3 separate regions of the Homo sapiens genome follow, and all the other regions are reported to be linked to region 3. The links are microRNA targets in miRTarBase. Many come from high-throughput screens and were not tested one by one. Region 3 holds a microRNA gene; each other region holds the end of a gene's coding sequence.

The links. Region 3 holds the annotated microRNA hsa-miR-3688-3p (UAUGGAAAGACUUUGCCACUCU, at 1,704-1,725, opposite strand). A microRNA usually pairs through its seed, bases 2 to 8, with sites in the 3' UTR of a target mRNA and lowers its output. Matches are read on the target gene's strand: a 7mer-m8 pairs with bases 2 to 8, a 7mer-A1 pairs with bases 2 to 7 and ends in A, and an 8mer does both.
Region 1: miRTarBase lists PDIA5 as a target of hsa-miR-3688-3p. Seed matches in the 3' UTR shown: 7mer-m8 at 336-342.
Region 2: miRTarBase lists EEF2 as a target of hsa-miR-3688-3p. Seed matches in the 3' UTR shown: 7mer-m8 at 3,449-3,455.

The regions. Positions count from the first base shown.
Region 1 is chr3:123,161,646-123,165,886 of GRCh38, forward strand. PDIA5 (protein disulfide isomerase family A member 5) reads left to right here. Exons shown (of 17, transcript NM_006810.4): 17 at 235-459. The coding sequence ends at 315. MIR7110 (microRNA 7110) reads left to right here and starts at 149; the gene lies at 149-234.
Region 2 is chr19:3,972,823-3,977,063 of GRCh38, forward strand. EEF2 (eukaryotic translation elongation factor 2) reads right to left here. Exons shown (of 15, transcript NM_001961.4): 15 at 3,234-3,925. The coding sequence ends at 3,732. Among named protein-coding and RNA genes, the nearest start is that of DAPK3, 3.8 kb to the left of the region's middle.
Region 3 is chr4:159,126,345-159,130,585 of GRCh38, reverse strand. It overlaps MIR3688-2 (microRNA 3688-2), which reads right to left and starts at 1,781; the gene lies at 1,695-1,781. All of the region lies in intron 1 of RAPGEF2 (Rap guanine nucleotide exchange factor 2), which reads right to left. MIR3688-1 (microRNA 3688-1) reads left to right here and starts at 1,692; the gene lies at 1,692-1,784.

The DNA of each region.
Region 1 (4,241 bases), not on the chromosome of region 3:
CACAGATGTCCTGTCCCCAGAGGCAGGCTGGACTCCAGATGCCGAGGGTTTTCTCACTTGCTGGTCGGGGCTGGTGCAAGCCACGCAGACCCTCTCCACCTTGCAGAAGTCTGCCCACCTCTCCCTGTCATAGGAGTGACCCCCTGGAGGGGCTGGGGGTGTGGGGAGAGAGAGTGCACAGCCAGCTCAGGGATTAAAGCTCTTTCTCTCTCTCTCTCTCCCACTTCCCTGCAGGAATTGGGATTTACCAATTATATTCGAGCCCTCCGGGAGGGAGACCATGAAAGACTAGGGAAAAAGAAGGAAGAGTTATAATTCCTGCCTCAGAAAAAGCTTTTCCATTACACTGTGAATGATACCTGTTTTGTTGTTTCTGAATTTCCACATGTTCTGAAGACAAATTTTTTATAGCCGCTTATGGCCATTTTGTACAATTTTGAAATAAAATTAAACCATTTATTTGGTGGTATGGTTTATTTTCGTGGAGCCTGTACTAAAAAAGGTGGATACTCACATCCTCCTCATTCCACCACCTCTGCTGGGAGGTACAGAGCAGTGCTCCAGTGCCCCATCTGCATGGAGGTGACTCCTGAGGGTGTCGGCCCCCTGTCAGTCATTTGAGAGCAGAACAGGGAAACTGGACCGCAGAATATCCTGCTGGAAAATGACAAGCTAATGAGAGGAAATACGTCAAGATGATCAATGACTTTGGGAGGCTGAGGTGGGAGGATCACTTGAAGCCAGGTGTTCAAGACCAGCCTGGGAAACATTATGAGACCTCATGTCTACAGAAAATAAAGTTGCTGGGCATAGGGGTACATGCCTATAGTCCCAGCTACTTGTAAGGCTGGGAAGGGAAGATTTCTTGAGCCCAGGAGTTCAAGGCTGCAATGATCTATGATCGCATGACTACTCCAGCCTAGCTAGAAAGCAAGACCTGTCTCAAAAATAGAAAAAGAAAAAGAAAGAAAAAAACAAAAGATGATCAGGGAAATTGGGATGCTGAAGCAAATGGTAACCAAACACTAGCTTCTTCTGGATCATTGCGGTTTCAGCATTGGTGTGTTTCCTCTGTGTGTGTTTTCCTGGAACTTACTTAGGTATTTATCTTTCTCCAGCTATTTGTCTTCTCTTCGTCTCTCCATTCCCTCCCCAATCTCCCTTTAAAGAAAATTAAGTTGCCGCTTCAGGGGCATGAATGGAGTGGGGGAAGGGGGGCTCTGTGCCAGCTGCTTGCTGTGCACCCTGGCTGGAAGGGATGGTGTGTTCTCGAGGTGCAGATATTAGATCTGCTCACCAGCCCCCACCACCAACCATAATAACCCCAAATCTTTACGCCACGTTTTCCATGGATGGGTGCCTTGCTCGGCCTCCTGCCTGTGTACATCTCCTTTTTGACCCACCTTTCTGGTGAGTCCTCCTGCTTTCTGCATTCCTGCGTGACTGACACCCCAGCCCTGTGCCCAGCGGTGCAGGCAGAGCCTGAGCACAGCAGTAACATGTTTTGTCTGCTTGGTGGTATTTCTCCATGGACAGCAGAGTGGCCTTGTGCTAGTATCTTGTCTTTAGTTATAAGTAGCGGTCCTAGAGTTGGATTCCTCCAGTAGTTCAGGGGGGCGTTGCTTAAGCTGCAGTACTTGGAAGCACGCTCTGGTGGCCTTGATGGGGACTTGGCCTGCAGGAACAGCCCTCCTTTCCTGGACCCAGCTCCCTTCCTCCTGGCCTAAGTCCTTCCTGCTGATGAATCTGCTGAGAGGAGGACAGAGCCTCCAAGTTCTTCACAGCTGTTTTGACGATGGTGCCACTGTGGGTGGTTTCATTAAGGGAAATCAAGGTTTTGAGAGCCCTTGTTCTGTGCAGTTCTCCAACTTTCCAATTGACCCTCCTGCCAGTTCAGCTCTTCTCTTTTCCCCTAAGCACCCACTTCCTTGGCAGTGGCCCCTGGACTTCACCCAAGGATTGGATATGAAAGACAGAAGCATACATTTAGACATCATTGAAACACAATTATTGAGTCCCTTCCTGTTGGGGACCATGAACATCTTACAAGGTGTCATTTAATCCTGACACAGGTGTTTACCATTCTAGCATGTGTGTGTCTGGACATGGGTCTCCTTCGTTATTTGGAGTATTTGTAGGGGGAACATATTTGCTTGTGTTTTTCAAAAAAGTTTTTTGTTTGTTTGTTTTTGGGTTTTTTTTACTGCACCTTTTCAATAATAATCTCACAAGAGCCACTTCCTGGCTGAGGACCACTAGTGCCCACCTGCGAGGCACAGGGCTTACTTTCTGGCCATTCCACATCCTCAGAGTTCAGATTTTCCTGGCTTAGCTTCTATTTGAAGACTTAAAAACATGAAATATTGTCAAATATAGATTTAAAGAAATTTTTTAACACATCATGAAATGGAATCCTCTTCACATCCCTATTTATTGACTTTGGGCATGACCTCAGCAAATTTCGTCGCAGCTCTGGGCAGCTCCCCCTGCGGACAGAACTCTCTTCCTCCACTCGCCCCCTGGCATCCGGGTTAGTTCTACTCCCAGTCACCATGCTTGGTTCTTTGTGGTTTCACTGATGTTTAGTGCAGACCTCCTCCCTCTGCCCCACTGGAGGGCTTGCTATCACCCTCCTCTGTTCGCCTGGATCCTGCGTTGCAGGCTGATTTCTCTGCAGGAAGTACGTGAGTTAGGGGAGAACTGATCCCCATCTTTATTCTGGTGCCCCTTGCCCAGCAGTGAGTCCCCATCACCACCTAACTGGAGCCTTCCGAGCAGGACCCTGTCTCTCTTACCTTCCTCATGCTGCTCCCTCCCCTTCTAGAGGTGTTTGGCTTCCAGGAGCTGTTCTGCGCCGGGCACGGGAAGGTGATGCTTCCAGGTTCAGAAGCTGGTTTTCTCCACCGCAACGTAAGAAGATGTGGAATCTCATCTGGAAAGCATCAGGCCCTCTTAGGAAGGCAAAGCCTATGTCCAGGGGTTACATCACCTGCCCACATCACATGGAATAACACAGGCACCAGCCCTGCCCGCAGGAGGCTCCCAGTTTGAGAGTGAGTGCACATTGGTGCTCAGAACCAAACTCTGTGCATTGTGCTCTTACTGTTTCCCATTCTTTTATTGTTGACTAGAAGAAGGAAGCTGATATTCTTAAGCTATCTATCAAAACCAAATTATGCTTATGGTCCCACCAAATATATGTCACCTCCAAAATCTTCTATTTTAGGCCAGTGTTATCCAATAGCCATTAGCCACATATGAGTATTGAGTACTTGAAATTTGGCTACTGCAGCTGAGTGAAGGTGTGTATGTCTATGCCTTTTTATATTGTGGTAAAATATACATAGCACACAATTTACCATTTTAATCATTTTTAAAGGTACAATTCAGTGGCACTAAGTACATTTACATTGTTGTCCAACCATCATTATGATCCATCTCTAGAACTTTTTCATCAACCCAGACTGAAACTCCATAACCATTAAAGAATAACTCTCCATTCCCCACTCCTCCTAGCCCGGGTAACCACTATTCTACTTTCTGTCTCTATGAATTCCACTATTCTAGGAACCTCATATAAGCAAAATCATACATCCTTTTGTATCTGGCATATTTCACTTAGCACACTGTTTTCAAGGTTCATTCTTGAAAGTATGTAGCATGTATTAGAATCTCATACCTTTTTAAAGGCTGAATAATATTCCATTGTATGTGCATACCATATTTTGTTTACCCATTCATCCATCAGTGGACATTTGGGTCAGTTTCACCTTTTGACTATTGTGAAGAATGCTGCTGTGAATATAGATGTACAAGTAAATACCTCTGTGACATCCCATTTTCAATTCTTTTGAAGGTGGAGTTACTGGGTCATCTGGTAACTCTATTTTTAGTTTTTTGAGGAATGGACAGACCATTTTCCACAGTGGCTGCACCATTCTGCGTTTCCACCAGCAAGGCACGAGGGTTCCAATTTCTCCTCATCCTCGCCAACAGTTATTTTCTGGTTTGGTTTCATTTTTAATAGTAGCCATCCTAATGGGTGTGAAGTGGCATCTCATTGTGGTTTTGAAATGTGTTTCCCTAACGATTAGTGATTTTGAGCATCTTTTTTTTTTTTTTTTTTTTTTTTTTTGAGACAGAGCCTCACTCTGTCACCCAAGCTGGAGTGCCATAGTGCCATCTTGGCTGACTGCCACCTCCGCCTCCCGGGTTCAAGCGATTATCATACCTCAGCCTTC
Region 2 (4,241 bases), not on the chromosome of region 3:
GGAGGCTAGCGCAGGAGAATTGCTTGAACCCAGGAGGTGGAGGTTGCAGCGAGCCGAGATCATGCCACTATACTACAGCCTGGGTGACGGAGGGAGACTCCATCTCAAAGAAAAAAAAGTGGCAGGGCATGGTGGCTAACGCCTGTAATTCCAGCATTTTGGGAGGCCACGGTGGGCAGATCACGAAGTCAGGACATCAAGACCATCCTGGCTAACACGGTGAAACCCTGTCTCTACTAATAAATACAAAAAATTAGCCGGGCATGGTGGCGGGTGCCTGTAGTCCCGGCTACTCGGGAGGCTGAGGCAGGAGAATGGCGTGAACCCGGGAGGCGGAGCTTGCAGTGAGCCAAGATTGAGCCACTGCACTCCAGCCTGGGTGACAGAGCAAAGACTGTCTCAAAAAAAAAAAAAAATTCAGCTTCCACATACCATCTTAACGTTTGCACTACTAAAAAAGAATAGGACCCGGTATGGTGGCTCACACCTGTAACCCCAGCACTTTGGGAGGCTGAGGCGGGCTGATCTCTTACGGTCGAGCTTGAGACCAGCCTGGCCAACATGGTGAAACCCCATCTCACCTAAATATACAAAAATTACACAGACCTGGTGATAGGCGCCTGTAATTCCAGCTACTCGGGAGGCTGAAGCACAAGAATTGCTTGAGCACTTGAATCCGGAGGCAGAGGCTATAGTGAGCCAAGATCACAACACTGCACTCCATCCTGGGCGATAGAGTGAGATTCTCGAAACACAGTAATCCGTTACCCTGACTGCTGGAAACAGCGTCAGTTACAGCCCCAATTCAAATGCGACAGCCAAACCAAACCTCAGGCATACCTACATGTGGGCAAAACCTCAGCTGAGGCTTGGCCTTGACAATGCAGGGCCAGAGCTGCCCCCGCCTTTGCCGAGAACCCCACAGCCCTACTTCACAGTCCCCACCTGCCTTCCTGAGGACAGAGTAAAAGGCGGAAAATGATCATGTTAACCTTATCAGCACTGACAAGATTAGGCCTCCTCACATCTTAGGCACTATTTAGAAAAACAAATAGTTTTCTAAGCTATTGGCGCTCACACCTGAAATCCCAGCACTTTGGGAGGCTGAGGCAGAAGGATCGCTTGAGCCCGGGAAGGAGACCAGCCTGAGCAACATAGTGAGACCCCATTACTACAAAAAAAGTAAAAATTAGGTCAGCACAGTGGCTCACGCCTATAATTCCCAGCACTTTGGGAGGCCGAGGCGGGTGGATCACGAGGTCAGGAGATCGAGACTATCCTGGCTAACACGGTGAAACCCTGTCTCTACTAATAAATACAAAAAATTAGCCGGGCATGGTGGCGGGCGCCTGTAGTCCCGGCTACTCGGGAGGCTGAGGCAGGAGAATGGCGTGAACCCGGGAGGCGGAGCTTGCAGTGAGCCAAGATTGAGCCACTGCACTCCAGCCTGGGTGACAGAGCAAAGACTGTCTCAAAAAAAAAAAAAAATTCAGCTTCCACATACCATCTTAACGTTTGCACTACTAAAAAAGAATAGGACCCGGTATGGTGGCTCACACCTGTAACCCCAGCACTTTGGGAGGCTGAGGCGGGCTGATCTCTTACGGTCGAGCTTGAGACCAGCCTGGCCAACATGGTGAAACCCCATCTCACCTAAATATACAAAAATTACACAGACCTGGTGATAGGCGCCTGTAATTCCAGCTACTCGGGAGGCTGAAGCACAAGAATTGCTTGAGCACTTGAATCCGGAGGCAGAGGCTATAGTGAGCCAAGATCACAACACTGCACTCCATCCTGGGCGATAGAGTGAGATTCTCGAAACACAGTAATCCGTTACCCTGACTGCTGGAAACAGCGTCAGTTACAGCCCCAATTCAAATGCGACAGCCAAACCAAACCTCAGGCATACCTACATGTGGGCAAAACCTCAGCTGAGGCTTGGCCTTGACAATGCAGGGCCAGAGCTGCCCCCGCCTTTGCCGAGAACCCCACAGCCCTACTTCACAGTCCCCACCTGCCTTCCTGAGGACAGAGTAAAAGGCGGAAAATGATCATGTTAACCTTATCAGCACTGACAAGATTAGGCCTCCTCACATCTTAGGCACTATTTAGAAAAACAAATAGTTTTCTAAGCTATTGGCGCTCACACCTGAAATCCCAGCACTTTGGGAGGCTGAGGCAGAAGGATCGCTTGAGCCCGGGAAGGAGACCAGCCTGAGCAACATAGTGAGACCCCATTACTACAAAAAAAGTAAAAATTAGGTCAGCACAGTGGCTCACGCCTATAATTCCCAGCACTTTGGGAGGCCGAGGCGGGCAGATCACTTGAGGTCAGGAGTTCGAGACCAACCAGGCCAAGCAAAATTCTGTCTCAAAATAAATAAAAATTAGCTGGGCATGGTGGCACATGCCTGGAGTCCCAGCTACCTGGCAGGCTGAGGCAGGAGAGTCCAGGAGGTGGAGGATGCAGTGAGCTGACTGCACCACTATACTCATCTGGGAGACAGCAAGACTCTGCCTCTAAAAAAGTGTTTACAAGGCCGGGCACAGTGGTACAATCCCAACGCTTTGGGAGGCCAAGGCGGGTGGATCACAAGGTCGAGTGATCAAGATCATCCAGGCCAACATGGTGAAACCTCATCTCTACTAAAAATATAAAAATTGGCTGGGCGTGGTAGCACACGCATGTAATCCCAGCTACCCAGGAGCCCGAGGCAGAATTGCTTGAACCCGGGAGGTGGAGGTTGCAGTGAGCAGAGATGGTGCCATTCCACTCCAGCCTAGCAAACGGTGAGACTCCATCTCAAAAAAAAAAAAAAAAAAAATGGGTTTCTAATAAACTAGTCAGGACTGGGGTGACCACAGAAAATCCTGATGGCAGATAGAACTTGTGAGCTCGTCAGCAATTCGGAAAGTTGCTGAAACCTGCGAAGTTCAATCCAGAGCCCCTCGCTCCACAGGGCCATCCAAATGCGTTCAAAGTGACATCTCGTAATTCCTTGCCGCACTGATCCTACTTCAAATGCTCAGCAGACCCGCGCAGCTGGCAGCTGCTTCTCTGAATGACACAGGGGTAGGGCATTCCCACCATTCCAGAACGTTCCACCTAACACTGAGGCAGCCCCAGGCTGCACCTAACTAGGGCCCGGGTCCCCTTCTAGGCTCCAGGGAGCCCAGTACTGGGCAGCCCCGCTCCCCTGCGAAGACACCGTGAAAAATGCAGAACAGAGTCACCACCTTATCAAATTTATTATTCCAATGGCACTAGTACAGCTGGAGGTGCTCATGGTGACACCGCACAGGACTTCCTGCCTGCTAGAAATCATCTACCCGCGTGTTCCTTTCCCCTTTCTGGGGCAAAAGCCACTGCGGGCCATGTACCCAAATAAACCTCTTAATGCGTTTGTTAAAATTAGTTTGGACATCTGAGTTTCCCTCTGAAGAAATGGAAAAAGTGTTGGGTGTCCCATCCCGCCTCCCCCTCCCCGACCGGCCCATTAAGTCCCTACTAAGAGGGCGTGTCTGCTGCCTCCGGACTCTGGAAATAAATATTGAAAGAAACGGCATCAAGTGTTATGGTTGAGTGATGGCACGCAGCGGGCCCCAGAAACCTCTCAGGGGAGCGTCGCTGTGTCGGGACAGTCTCCAGGTGTCGTCTGAGAATTCGAGGACGTGGTGCTGTGGGTGCTGCGAGTCCCCGGGGCGGCAGGCGCTGCAGGAAGGGCCGCCTACAATTTGTCCAGGAAGTTGTCCAGGGCAGGGATGCCTTCTTTCAGGCCCTTGCGCTTGCGGGTCTCCGCCACCACCTGGCTGGGGCGGCTGCTGTTGTCGAAGGGGTCTCCGGGCAGGATCTGCCAGTGGTCAAACACACACTGGGGGAACGCCTGGCCGCCCGTGTTGGACCTCAGGTCAGCGGTGAAGCCTGCAGAGGGAAGCGAGAGGCTCACTGGGCCATCGAGAAGGTGGCAGGGCAGAAGGAAAGTCCTGTCAGGAGCTCAGGCTAGTTCCTCAGCCTGAGTCACCCTGCAGACCAGACACTCGGCCTGGTGCCCAGCACTTCACGAAGGGCCTAGCAGGCCACTCATGGGCCTCATGCCGCTGCTCGTTTGGGACAACCCTGTGCTACAGCTCGGCTGCTCTACCGGCCCAGGGCGTAGGCCTTCAGAGCTCCAGGCCCAGAGCCCTTCTCACACTGGGGATAGGAGAGCCCCTCCCCTGGGAATTCAGTGATTTAGGGG
Region 3 (4,241 bases):
TTAGACTTTAGATCCGAAATTCATCTCTAAAATAAAAATGACCTAGCAGAGAAATTTGAATAAAGAAAAATGTGCATGCCTGTAGTTCTAGCTACTTGGGGGGCTGAGGTGGGAGGATCACTTGAGCTCAAGAATTTAACACTGCAGTGAGCTATAATCACACCACTGCAATTCCACCTAGGTGACAGGGCAAGACCCTGTTGTCAGAGGCATTTGAACCAGAGCCAACTCCATCTTAAATAGGGGCTGGGTAAAATAAGGCTGAGACCTACTGGACTGCATTCCCAGGAGGTTAGACATTCTTGGTCACAGGATGAGATAAGAGGTCACCACAAGATACAGGTCAAAAAGACCCTGCTGATAAGACAAGGTAAAGAAGCAGACAAAACCCACCAAAACCAAGATGACAACAAAAGTGACCTCTGGTAGTGCTCACTGTTCATTATTCATTAATTATAATGCATTAGATTGCTAAAAGACACTCCCACTAGCGCCATGACAGTTTACAAATGCCATGGCAATGTCTGGAAGTTTCCCTGTATGGTCTAAAATAGGGAGGAACACCTCAGTTCTGGGGAAAATCCCCACCCCTTTCCAGGAAAACTCATAAATAATTCACCCCTTGTTTAGTATATAATCAAGAAATAACCATAAAAACAGCCAGCCACCAGTCCTCAGGGCTGCTCTATGGAGTAGCCGTTCTTTTATTCCCATACTTTCTTAATAAACTTGCTTTCACTTTATTCTATGAACTCACCCCAAATTCTTTCTTGCCCAAGATCCAAGAACCCTCTTTTCAGGGTCCGGATTGGGACCCCTTTCCAGTAACACTGTCTCGAAAAAGAGAAAAACATCCTAACTAAATTAGAACTTCATTTTGTAAAAGTCTTTATTAACAACAACATAGACATTTACACCTGCTCTTATTATAGGGGGAGTAGAGTGGATAGAATAGGGACTTTGAAATCAGTTATTTGTTCTTAAGCAAATTACTTAATCCCTGCATCTCAGTTTCTTCATTGGTAAATTGATAATAGTACCTCATGCTTTATAAGGTTGATGTTAGAACTGAATAAACCATAAGAAAACATCTAGGTGACTTTCTGGCACATAACACACACTTTATAAATGACAACTGCTTTTCTATGTCTTTCCTGAACTGTTCTGAGATATGTGCTCCCTAAACATAAAATAAAGAACTGACACCATAACTGTAAGCATTATGTATTATTACACTGACAGGCAACCTGAAACCATCAGTGTGGCACTTTCAAAAGGTCTATATTATCAAAGTAACTCTTAAGAGATAACTAGAGGCATAATATAAAGATTCATTAATATTGCACCTTTCAATGGTGAGCATTTATAATATGAAAGCAATTCTAATTGCTTTTCAAATTCTTCAAAAAGAAAGCGATAAGATTTCTATTCAAGATTCTTATTCTTATTACATTTCTATGCAAGTTTCTGCCTCCATGTCTAAGATCACATAGCAGCATTCAAATTTAAATACAGAATGATGACAGATTTCAATAATCAAAAGACTGCATCCATTCATATCATACAATTACAAATCTTTTCTTCTACAAATATGTATTCCAAAAAATATACTTAAAATAGATTTATATATATATATATATACACACACACACACACACACACACCCCCCATATGTATATATATACACACACTCTTCACTTTCAAGAGTGGCAAAGTCTTTCCATATGTATGTATGTATGTCTGTTACACATATGGAAAGACTTTGCCACTCTTTAAAGTGAAGAACTTTTGGTTCAGCTTCTTTATTTAAATAAAATGATCAAAACTATTTAAGATACATTGGTGTAAAAGAGTTTTTACACAATGGTTCTTTGAAGTCTGAAAATGTTTTGGCAAAGAGAAAGCTCTTTACAAAACTCAACATGAAGCCTGTACTTCTAAAATAATCCATATAAGTATTAACCTGCATAACCAAATAATAATTTGAAAACATGGTTTTACTGCTTTGTATTCACCAAAAAGAGGGGTGAATAAACTACTAGCCAAATGTTAAGAATATTAAGAAGATCTTAGCCTATTATCTTTATAAATGACTCACAATTTCTACTGACACTAATATTTTTATTATGTCAGCAATAGTAATACTTTACATTCATGTAGACTTTTCCATTGCGAAGTACTTTCTCATATATTAAACTTACGTAACCCTGAAAATAGGTATGGAAAGCATTGTGTTCCATTTTACAGGTGAGAAAACTAAGATCCAATGAAAATTTCCAGGGTCACGTGGAGAGTAACTGGATACAACATCAGTCCCTCTCTTCCAGCTAGTCTTCCTCAGTAGAATTAGGCCCCAAAATGTACTATTAGATTGACAGTAATGTAAAAGTTAAGACATTATTAGTCTCAGTATTTTTTCTTCTTGGATTTTACTAGATGAAATAGAACGTACAATTTAAAGTATCTCCTAACAAAAGAAAGGTTATAAGGTACATGTATAAAACAGGGAGTTCAAAATTCAAGGAAAGCAAACATATATATACATACCTAAATATAATCCAAGGCAATAAACTGCAGTCCAGGGCATAGAGATTCATAACACCATGCCTAGAATTCAGGACTTTGCTTCTGACTTGCTTCTGTAACTTACACAAATCATGGTGACTAAGTAAAATTTGAATTGCTATCACCTAACCAGGCAATTTTCTAAGAATCAATTTTGACTGTCTTAAAATAATTTACAAGCCTGAACAATGTTGTATTCAAATAATAAAAATAACTGCCTATGAATTAAATTTTAAAAACTGCACCAAACTGAGCTATATACCCCATTAGTATTCTTATTCTATTACTATGAGAATGTCAAACACACTTCATATTATACATTTGAATATTTAAGGAATGCTAAGGTATTATAAAACGCCATGGAGACATAAAGGTCATAAAGGTAGTTTAACCTTTGAGGAATTCTGCAGTTTAAAAATGAGATATGTACACTTAATAATTACGAAATTATGCATTGCCAAGGAATGCCCAGAAGAAACGCAAGCTAAAAACAGTGACAGCATAAAGAAAAATTCAACCTCTAGACTAAGCAACTAGAAGATGCTTCATGAAGGGGGGAACATGGCATTAAATGAGTTACTACCACAGGTAAAAAGGGAGGAAATCAAAAGGTGTGTTTTTTGTGGGGTACTGATAAAGCCCTGAGAATGGTGGCAGTGAGAAGGTAAATAGTATCATAAAACACAAATAAATAGGCCAGGTGCGGTGGTTCACACCTGTAATCCCAGCACTTTGGGAGGCCAAGGCAGGCGGATCACCTGAGGTCAGGAATTCAAAACCAGCCTGGCCAATGTGGTGAAACTCCATCTCTACCAACAATACAAAAATTACCCTGGTGTGGTGGCGTGTGCCTGTAATCCCAGCTACTCAGGAGGCTGAGGCAGGAGAATCGCTTGAACCCAGGAGGCGGAGGTTGTAGTGAGCCAAGATAGCACCACTGCACTCCAGCCTGGGCGACAAGAGCAAAACTCCGTCTCAAGAAAACAAACAACAACAACAAAAAATGCAAATAAACAAATGTTTTCATCCACAAACCACAGTTACCTCTTTACAAAATCAATTCAAACGTAGGAGCAGTTTACCCAGAAGATAGTGTGAGATTATTGTTCTTTGTGGTTACAAATATGATTCTTGACAATTACCATGCACATGAATGGGGTTCTACTTGACAATGAGAAATGAGGACTCGGGTTTTTTCCTCTAAAAGACCATCCTAAATAAACAGGTCTATAACAGCATTTTTCCTCTTGTAGCTCTGATCTTATAATCAACTGAGAAAAATAAAAATGAAGGGAAACTGAAATTATGACCTAGCCTAAAAGCAGAGGGGGAAAAGGATAAGTGTGGGTTCCTGTAAACACTTTTAAGATGGTCATTTTCACAATCAGCAAAGAGGAGTGTTTATCCAGTAAGTTAAAAAGAAAATTCTGAGAAAGTCTTAAAATCTTCTGAGAGATGACAGGGAGGCATCAGGCTTTTTTTTTTTTTTAAAACCTGGACAGGAGATAGAATAAATGACATTTTACAATCAAAATTACTTCACTTATTTCATATATAAAGAAAACTAAAAATATGCAAAAAGCCAGATTTTAAGTTGTGTTGGTGAGACTTTCTTATTTTTAAAAATTTCACCCAGCTTGGTAAGAATGATGAATTGCTTTACACTGGGCTTTCAA